Regions from separate parts of the Homo sapiens genome. Here region 1 is linked to region 2. Evidence: fine-mapped expression QTL. A gene starts in region 2. The other region holds a variant in brackets. All regions are shown on one strand. Distances are between the middles of the regions. Region 1 overlaps FAM135B (family with sequence similarity 135 member B). Region 2 holds the start of FAM135B (family with sequence similarity 135 member B).

What was found. PIP is the estimated chance that this variant, and not a neighbour inherited with it, causes the effect. A credible set is the group of variants that fine-mapping cannot tell apart.
Region 1: its variant is the best candidate, but not a certain one, in a credible set for the expression of FAM135B in testis (GTEx, PIP 0.74).

The regions. Positions count from the first base shown.
Region 1 is chr8:138,438,338-138,443,717 of GRCh38, forward strand. All of the region lies in intron 1 of FAM135B (family with sequence similarity 135 member B), which reads right to left. Among named protein-coding and RNA genes, the nearest start is that of FAM135B, 56 kb to the right of the region's middle. The variant T/C (reference allele first, on the strand shown) is at 3,303.
Region 2 is chr8:138,495,000-138,500,379 of GRCh38, forward strand. It overlaps FAM135B (family with sequence similarity 135 member B), which reads right to left and starts at 2,262. Exons shown (of 20, transcript NM_015912.4): 1 at 1,672-2,262.

The sequences.
Region 1 (5,380 bases), 57 kb before region 2:
TCCTTAGCAAAAATAATGTGGGGCAGAATCAAAAAATATAATAAAGGGTAGTAGAAAGAGTGATAATATGAGTGTCTTCAAATACCAGCTAAATCTTGATTGCTGCTACATCTACAAATCAAATTTGAATTGCACTTCTGAGCTCTATCAAAGAAAAAAACAGAGCTAGGCAGTAGTTAAAGTGGTAGAAACAGACTCTATTCTGGATTATTGAAACAGGAGAAAAGATGCTTCAATATAAAACTGGGTTCAATTTTGAATACAGCACAAGCAAGGGGAAATATATAACCAAGGAACAAGAGAGGGATCAGAGGATGGAAAACAACTAAGAGAAAACCTCAGAAGTAAAAGGATTCTGGCAAAACCCACTGAACTGGATTCTTGCCAAAGACAGGCCAGGATGATCAGACATCACCTGAGGATGATGCCTGGCACAGTAGTCCCAACCAGATACTGGACCAGCCATTTAATAATATGTAGCAAGGACTAAAACCAGGTTTCCTGGGGACTGCATTTTACTCCTTAGCATTTCCTGTCTTTCAATGGGATGATCTTCTTGACCTAAAATTGCCATGGCAACCTTGTGGGTGGGGTGGAAGAGGTCACTATACAAACAGGTTATCAGTGACAGATGTGGCTTCTGTTCCATAACTGGTACCTAAAAAAACAAGTGGGTCATCACATTAGCTTGACTCAGGACATCTCTCACCAGGCTATTAGCCTTTAGAAAACACAGAGCTCAATTAACTTTCATGGAAATTGGATTATTTCCTGCCCATTTGAAGGCCTTCATTTATCCACCAGGAGCTGTACAAGGCAAAGTTTCTGGTGTGTATATACCTGAAAATCTTTGAGGAGGCTCCAGTACAAAGATAATATTCTTCTAGGTTACAAAGAACCTGCATGTAAATTACCAATTATCATTTCATAATGGCCCTGTGTGGTCAATATGAGAGAATCATAGCACATAGGACAATAAATGACGTTCAAGATTAAGCAGCTAATCACATATGTCATCATTAGGTATGAATTCAGACCTGCCTGATCCCAAATCCCATTCTCATTCCACTACACCATGTGACCTCAGTAGTCCTCATGGGTTACAAACACCAGTCTCATCTTCAAACTCCAAGGTAAAGCTTCATAGGCCGACCTCATAACATCAGAGGAGGACATTTCCTAGGGGGAGGGAACATGTCATGTTGGGTTTCCCTTTGACTGGAGTAGTCAAGGGATACTCCAGTCTCTGTGAATGGGGATGAAGCATTAACATTAACAGAAAGGGAAAGAACTTTCTACTGTAGTGCCAGAACTTTCCACTGTTACTGTGTGCCAGAAGCTCTCCCAGGTGCTTCACAGCTGCTCTCTAATTTAATCCTAACCCCTCTGCTAGGGATGTATTATTGTGTCCCATGTTACAACTGAAGAAATTCGTGCTTAGAAAGTTTGACTGTCCAATGTTGAAATGTGAGCAGAAAAGGCAGACCTGAAATTTGGAACCAGTTATTGGCTACAGGGCTTTGTAAACTTTGGCCAAGCACTTTCCATCACTCCAGGTACTTCTAAAGTAATTCAATAGATAACTGAAGCAGTCATGGTTCCTGGGATGCCAACACTAATCCTGGCTTACCTGTGCAAGAATGGACCCACTGGAGAACTGGAGTGCAGGTGCGAGGATCATAGGGAAGATAGTGTGATGAACAAGGCTAAGAACTAAGAGCTATCAGGGTGTTCTTGCCAGTCTCATCAGTGAGAACTTGACAAGCTCACCAGGTTCCCACCACTGGGCTGCAGGAACTATAATGTTTTCTTTTGTGTTGACTCATCTCAGTTAAGACTTAAAGTTCCAGGTGAGAGGTAGCTTCCTGGCCATATTAAGGTCATCGCCCCAGCTTTTGGCTATGCTCTTGCAAATAAATGTCTCAGGAACCCTTAAGCCACCCCAGAAGAAGGCATATTTCTGGGGTTACTTTCAACCAAGAGCATACATTCAAGAGACAATTCATCTAGAGGAATGTCTGGGTGCTATTAGGAGGGAGAAATGGGTGCAAGATAGTGACAAATATCTAGGACAAAAGTAAAATATGGGCTTTATATTTAACAGATAATACATACAAAAGTCCAAAAAAGGTAAAATTAGAATTTAAATATTTATAATAATGCACATGAAAGTACTAACTGCATTGTCTAAATCATATCTAATAAAATCACCATCACCGTCATCACCAAAATCATCATCATTGCTATCATTACAAGATAACATAAATCAGTTCCAGAGCCAGACCACAAACCTAGGTTACTGGACACCTTACCCAATACTTTTTTGACATGAGATATTTTAGAGGTGTCTCTCACAGAGTATAGATGGGAAACATCTTTAGAAAGGCAAGATCAATTTAAAATCTATCACATTTCTGAGATATACTCATACTGTAGGCTTCCTCTAATTGATTGAAAAAGTGGCTATGATATTTCATGACATGCAACTCAAGAGGTAGAGCCAATTTCCATGCCCCTTGGTCTGGGTGGTAACTGAATATGCAGAAGTGAAACTGTGTGAGTTCCTGAGCCTTCTACTTTGCTATTTTGGAGTGTTCCTGCCACTATGTAACAAAGCCTACACTAGAATACTAAACACAGACCTTAAAGAAAGAGAGGAACAGTTAGCGCCTGCACCAAGACCCCCACACATGTGAGTGAAGTCATCGTAGACCCTCCAGCCTCAGTGGAGGAAGTGCTCACTCTAGCAAGTGCCTTGGATGACCGAGTGGCTGCTCCACGTGGCTACAATGTTAATGATGAATACAAGCATGCTGGGATGGATATTTTTTACAGCACTGGAGAGTAAACAGAGGAAAATAACAAGATCTAGCCTTCAGACTGTCTATCAACTCAGCTCTGATGAGAGAACAAGTTTGTTTCTGGGGTAGCCCTAAAATAATCTCTTATTTCATGTAGTCACAGGGAAGATAAGGCTGAAAATCAGAACTAAAACTTTCTTATGCAGGTTGCAGAATTATGAGGAAAGCCAAATTTGCACACCCAACAAGTCTCTTCTGTGAGCTTTAGGGCATCAGTTGGAAAGAGTGGGACAATGACACTTTGAATGGGGGTGTTTTATTGGATTGAGACCAAACTGGAAATCTTTATCCATCAGCATCACTATTGTGTGAAGAACTAAATACACTCTCTTGAACACAGCCTGACATCCTATTTGCTTATTTTTTAAACAATGCTTTCTCCAGTTAGTACATACATTCCACGAGAGAAAGAATTTCTGTTTGTTTGCAGATTTCACTCAC[T/C]ACCTGAAACAATGCCTGCAAGTATGTTCTCTTCTTTTGTGACTTCCCTTCCAATTCTCTGCTTTCTGCCATATAGCTTCTCTGCTTTTTTTTTTTCCTTAGATTAGCTTGAGACCTTGATTCAAATTCGATCATATGAGTGGACCTAGGAAGCAAGGATATTTTACCCTCAGCAGCTGTGAGAAGGGGGTAGTCTGAAGACTCAAAGAGTGCAGTCTTGATGACAGAGAATATGCTGTGTGAGGAGACAGCAAATAAATAATTACAGAGCAAAAGAGAGAGAAATTTGGAAGGAAGGAGGAAATAAGGGGGAAAAAGAGAGAAGTGTTGGGAAATCACACACACACCGAGTGATGCAGATTGGTGTTAGTTGAATATTTTGTATGTCAAGTTCTGTAAGTCCTTATGCAGCAGGCAAACGATGTGAAGGACCATTGTATTATCTCCTCCTTTAATATTACAAATGTTGGAAACTGAGGGTCTTAAACTATTACATAATCTGTCCAAGGTATATGAAATAGAACTAGAATACAGCTTGTCTTAGCCTAGCATCTTCAATTTGGAAATAAAAAAATTTAACGTGAAGAATATGGACACCATATATATATATATATATATATATATATATATATATATATGAAAAACCTTGGCAGTTGAATATCTTTTTATAGGCACAATGTATATGTTTGGTTGTGTGTCTATATTTCTGTGTTTACTATTTTATTTGTTCAACATGAAACATTTAATGAGCACGTACTACTATGTGTCAGGCACATACAACATCCTTTGAAGTGAATGCTGTTTAACATCCTCTTTCAATGGGTTTAAAAATGTCAAGTGATAGGATGTAGCTAAGACTTAGGTTAGACCTCGCAGATCTAGAGTTACTATTTTTTCTACTGTGTTGTCTCAACCTGACCTCTACCACCAAACACAAAGCAAAATAAAACAAAGCAAATAAAAACAGAAAGAAAGAGAGGAGCACAAAAACAATCAAAAACATTCTGGAGAGTAGCCAGGATGTTATCCCAGGCACTCCACAGAAAGCAGAATGTAAAAAGTAATAGATCTCCAATTCACCAAGTCCCCTTAGTAATGAATTCCAAGCAAACCACATTGTATCAGAAAGCCCTGCTGTGCTGAGGAGTTCCCACTCCCAGGGGGAAGGACTGATGGGCTCTAGCTGTGTCTATAATTTGATAAGACAAGGACAGCAATGGAGTTTGGGAAATGGATCAATTTTAATGCAATGCCACTGACAAATCAGAAAGGACTACGTGATGGTTGTCAGGAGAACATCCCTGCACCTCCTCGTCCCTGTGTGCGAGGATGGCTTGTCTTTAATAAGTCAGGGGATTACAACCCCAGTGAGGCTGCTGCTACTGATGAGTCAGGACTCACCCAAAGGCTTGCATTAAATGGAATGTAAAGACCCCAGTAGGTCCTATCTCAAGGCTGTGTGTTTGTGGAGTTGTGTGCAAAGGAGAGAAATAGCCCATGATCCACCCTGATGCCAGGCCATAAAAGCCTCGTTGCTCATCACATCTGGGTAAAGCAGATTTTATCAATCCCCCCAAATAAAATAGGAAATTAATATCCCAGAAATAATAGGTTATTGAGACAGAAATTGAAGTCTGGTCTATCCATTCAAATATTCTTTTCTTTTTCTCTTTTTCTTTCTTTTTACCAGATCCTGTGGGTTCCAAAGACATTCTCCAAAAAGGAGCCAGAAAATATGATCTGAACTCTTGAAATCAGTATTATATGGGGTCCACTTAAATACCTGGGTCTTTCACTATGAAGCACAAAAGCAGGAAACCAAAAGCAAACAAAAAAAAGGACATTTTTCAAAATCTTACACCAAACCTGAAAGGCAGAACTCACACAAATAAAATTGCTAATTAGTTAATCCAAGACATCCTTATTTTCAAAATTGTCATTCATCAAATTAATTCACTCAGCAAGTGTTTACTAAGCACTGACTGAGGGACAAGGGCTGTTCCCAATACTGGGAATTAGAGAGCAAACAAATGACAGGGTGTATGGAACCCTCCTGTTGTGGAGACAACAACATCAAC
Region 2 (5,380 bases):
AGTGAATCTTGGACCAGACTACAGTGTTTCCACTGTGAGTCACTGACTAATATTTCCACTCTCTTTTCGTAGTTGATGGATGTTTAATGATTTGCCAATCTGAGGAAGAGAGATTCTTTAGAAAACAATAATCCCTTTTACTTGCACAAGACATCAGGTTTTAAAAAGCCCTTCCCAAACATCCTCTCCACATCCCATTGGATTGTGATTGAGCCTGGTAAACTGCAAGACTTGTTAGTTAGTATCCCCATTCTCCAGATGAGAGAAAGAAGCCTCAGTGAGGTGGAACAACTCAAGGTCACACAGCAGGTGCATGAGGAAATCAGAGTTCAAATCCATGTTTTCTGACCCTCCAATCTGGTCCACTTTCCTCTACACCTAACCATCTGTCTAAGCTCTGATAACATCATCCATATTATGACATAAATCTCCAGATGAGAGGTTGGCCAAATCACATCCCCTTGGGTAACATAACCACACCATAAATTAAAAGCCCAATTAAAGAACATAGCCTTTTAACTGGGACTTAGACTGTCCCCCGAGGCCACGATATAAAGGAAGAGCCCTTTCAAAGTCAATGGCTGCCTATCCTGGATATTATTCAGAGGCCTACTTACCTACATGCACGAACTTTCAGACCCTAATTATTCACATGCTATCTTCCTTCTTCCGGGGCCCTGGTCCCAGCTGATCTGAGTTTGTAATCACTCCCCAAGCTCTGGCCCTCTCTCCAGCCTGCAGATGTAGTTAACAGTCCATCACACTGTATGGACAGCCCAGGTGCCTCTCGGCTTTGACACATCACTTAACATCAAGAGCATCATAACCTGATGGAAAACAATGCCCCCTGGTTCAAATGGACAACTGAAGCGGTGTCTCCAGCTGTCTGAAAGCGAGATAGTTTGCCAGTGGCCAAGGAGCAAGGATTGTCACTATGAGCGATGTGATTCTTGTTTTGCTGGCAAAGTGGGGTGGGGAGCTAGAAATGAGGTGGGGAGAAGGGGAGGGCATAGTCTTGACTGCTAGCTCAAAATTTTATTTCTATTCCCATCCTATCCCTAATAGTCAACGGCAATAACATGATACTCCTGTGTCCCAAAATAATAACAGTTACTACTTGCCTCGTCTAAACATCCCCTCCAGTGACTGGGCTTGAAGCTGGCTCTACAGATCAAGAGCTGGTCCCTTTCCATGTCACAGCTGAGCTGCAGTGTCCCCGCACACCCCTGTCCCCAGCCAAGCCACAGGAAGAACGGGTCTGTGCATTCGCCTGGATCACAGGGAATCGCTGCCACTGTCCCCTCCACCCCAGTGCGGTCTTCTCCTGAGCCTGGCCCCCGGGTTCCCTGGCTCCAAGGACCCCAATGGCCAAGGTCTGCATGCGCCCCCTCAGCCTCCATCTGGGACTCCTGGGGGGAACCCCTCATTAACCCAGCCTCTCCGCTCCTTTCACAGCCCTGGCCCTTCTTATCCCCTCAAGACCTGTCCAGATGTGCAGCAAACCTGGAGGGCAGAGAGACTGGGGAAAATCGAGGGAGATAAACCACATTTTGCGGCGGAATCGCTGTTCCGTGACAGAAAGCCATCCAACTGGCAACCACGCTTGCAGAAGCGTCACTACCACCGACGAGAGAGTTTTGCAGCTGCCGACCCCGAAGCGCTCTCACCTACCTGTCTCCACTGCAGGGCTCCCCTCTCTCTCCCCCGGGGGCCGCGCTCCTGGGTCCCTCTCTCTCCTCTTTCGCCGTCTCTGGCCGCCAACAGTTGCGGCGGCGGCGGCGGCGGGCGGACTGGGGAGTCCGCAGCACCTGCGAGCTGGTGTTGGGTCCCCGCGGCGAGGCTGCCTGGAGGAGGAGCGAGCGGATGCTGCCCTCGCCCGCCGCCGCCGGTGCTGATGCGGTTGCTATGGTTATGGAACCCCGCAACTGCCCCCCTCTCCGTGCAACAGCTGCCCGGCCGCGGCCTCCGGGCAGCCCCAGCGAGCAGGCGCCAGGACGCGAGGCTGTCAGCGCGGTCGGGGGAACGCAGCCGCCAGCGCCGCAAGAAAGCAAGGACCGACCGGCTGCGCCCGCGCCGCTGGGCTGGCGCCTCCCGGGCTGCGCTCACCTCTGGCGCCCTCACTCCTCTCCTTCCTCCGCCGGGACGCGGCCAGACCCTCCGCGCCGCGCCGCGCGCCCTCGCGGCCGGGAGAGCCCGCCCTGCTGCTCCCGCTGGCTCCGCTCCGCAGCCGCTGCGCACCGCGTGGGTAGACGCTGCGCGACTGGCTGGCGGCGCGGCTCACGCGCTCCCACCTCGGTCCCTCTCCGCCGCGAGGCCCTGATGGGAGCCCGGGGCGGGCCGCCCGGCGGCCAAACCCCGCCCGCTCGGCCGCCCGGGTGCCCAGGGCGCAGGCTGCGGCCCCGCGTGCGGCCCTCCCAGACTGACCGGCGCGAGCATGCTCAGTCCCCGCGGCGGGGCTCCCCTCTCGAGCCAAGACCCCAGGCCTCGGGCAGGAAAAGGGTCCCTGCAGATATCCGGGGGCGGGGCGCGGCGGAGAACTGGCTGGGAGGGGACTGTTGAACTTGGAAGAGAAGCCCAGGCAACAAGTAGATGCCTGAGAAAGGGTAAAAGCGCTGAGCAACCCATACCTCCAATGCGAAGTCAGCAGTGGCCTTCAACCAGCCAGCCGGCCCGTCATCCGATGGGCTCCTCACTTCATGCTGAACGTGGGGGTTCACAGACGTGTGAGATTCTGTCCACGGAGGAGGGAGAGGAAGATTGGGGAGGGTTAAGCCAGCTCCCGTCTACTGAGCATTCTTAAGGGGCATTGGGAACTCTAATTATCACCACCACTGTGCTGGCAAGTTCTCGTGGCATGCCTGTGACAGATGACAAAACAGCCTTAGAGAAGGAGCCAAGACTGGGACTCGGAAGCCCAGTGACCCGTCCACTAGACTCGGCTGCACTAACTCCACCCAGGAGGAGGCAGGGAATGGAACCAGGCATTAGAGGATGACTATGTCCCCCATTAGACTGGGCTGCACTAACTCACACCCCAGGAGGAAGCAGGGAATGGAACCAGGCAATTGCAGTTGGCAGGAGGAGTCTCTAACCCTGTCAGGCTGGGGGCAGGGGCAAGTAATTGGGGAAAGATACCTGAAAAAAAGGTATAAGAACAAATGAGTGGGGCGGTGAAGGGTAGAGAAGACTGCTCTTTCCAGGACAAGAGGAGCAGGGTACAGAGGCCTGGAGGCAGGACAGAACAGCAGGAACCTAGCAGCAGCAGGCAAGGAGAGGTGAGGCAGGCGAGTGGTGAGGTTTACAGGGCAGGCACTGCACACCAAAGGCCTTGCGATCCAAGTGAAGGGGTTGGAATTTGACAATGTGACCCTTAGGATGGGAAGGGAATGGGGAAGGTGGTGGGGAGGAGGGCAGTGAAGCAGTTTAAGCAGGAGAAAGGCTGGGTGGGAATGAAGGGAAGATCACCTTAGTTGAAGTGTGTGTGGTGCTGGCTAGGGTGGGGATTAAGGCTGCAGAAAGAGGTGTCCTAAGGAGGCTGTTGACATAGTGGGCCTGGGCAGATGGAGGCTCTGAGCTATCTACCCTGCTTGTCCTCCCCACAGCACCCAGCAAGCCCAGGGCAATGCATACCCTCAGTAAATGTTTGGTGAATGGCAAATAAATATGAATTTCTCAATAGAGAAAATGGGTGCTTTTCTTTTACAATATTTGTCTCTTAAATGTGTTCATAACCATATGGCATTTATTTTGCTATTGACATTGCATTTTTATGCAACCTTATTTTTGAAAGTCAGTGCAAGCACTCATTATTTTCCTCTGCATTTTCTAGTCCCCAGCAGTAGAGATATGCCAGGAGCATAGGATTTACTTGTATTGGATGTATTGTCTGGATAAAACAGCTCCATGATTTATTAAGTGAAAAAGCAAAGTGCAGAATAGATAAAATAAGATAATATTAAAATAAGACAACTGTTGTGAAACAAGGAGACAGATACACATATTTGTATTGCTTGCATTGGCATAAAAATACGCTAGAAGGCTATGTAAGAAACTTGGAGAAGTAGCTATTAGCTATGAGGGTGAAGATGGGTGGAAGAACTAGGTTGACGAGGTTAGAGTGAGAGTGAGAATTTTGACATACACTATTTTTTTGTTTCTTGAGACAGGGTCTTACTTTGTTACCCAGGCTAGAGTGCAGTGGCACAATCTTAACTCACTGCAGCCTTTAACTCCTGGGCACAAGCAATCTTCCCACCTCAGCCCCTCCAAGTAGGTAGGACTACCATGCCTGGGTAATGTTTTTATTTTTTATAGACCTACCACCATGCCTGGGTAAAGTTTTTTATCTTTTGTAGACCTACCACCATGCCTGGGTAAGGTTTTTATTTTTTGTAGAGATGGGGTCTGGCTATGTTGCCCAGGCTAGTCTCAAACTCCTGGGCTCAAATGATCCTCCTGCCTCAGCCTTGCTGGGATTATAGGTGGGAGCCACTGCACTTGACCTCAACATACACTTTTATAAAACATTTTGATGTTTAAGCCAAAAAGAAATTGCACATATATGTAAGTGTGTATGTGCATATATATAAACACACACATACGTATGTGTGTATATGTGTGTGTATGTGTGTGTGTATATATACATATACACATAATCTGTATATATAATCCATGACTAGAATCTCAGTGAATCTTGAAATAACCTCAAAGGCAACATGCAACGTGTGCCAGTGAGACCCTATGTCCCCAGAGATGCCCCCAATCCTTGTTCCCCATGTGGTAAAATAGTATTATGAATTATGACTGCAAAGTCTTCTTCAAACTGTGCTCATGGACTGCCCGGCATGACATTAATCAATCAGCTGCAGTGATGCACTGTTGGCCCCGAGATCCCCTTACCCATTGTCCTCTTAATGAATGGGCCTTGTGCAAGGTAAGGCCCTGAACAGCTGGGGCCTGGGGGAGGTCTGGAAGGGAAAGCCTCTGCCACTGCCCAGGTTGGGCCTTGGTGGAACTGACTCAAAAGCAGCAATAGCCCTCCACTGTTATCTCCCACCAAGAAAATGTCCCACTGCCCATCAAATCACAGAAGCCAGAAACCTACCATCATCCTAGGCTTCCTAACCTCTCCCTCTCTCCCGTTCTCTCGACTCTTCTCATCTCCCTCAACCGAATTAATTGCCAACGTCTGCCAATTCCACCATGTAAATAGCTCTCAGAGTCATCTATGACAGGGGATCCCTGAGAGATTTTTAAAAATCTTCTTCAAAAAGGGGTCATGAGTGATGACGTGTCTTTCAAGAGAAATGGTGTTTTGGCATGAGCAGTTACAGATAGGACAGATGGACACTGGTTCTGAGATGGATACAAGCCAAATCCA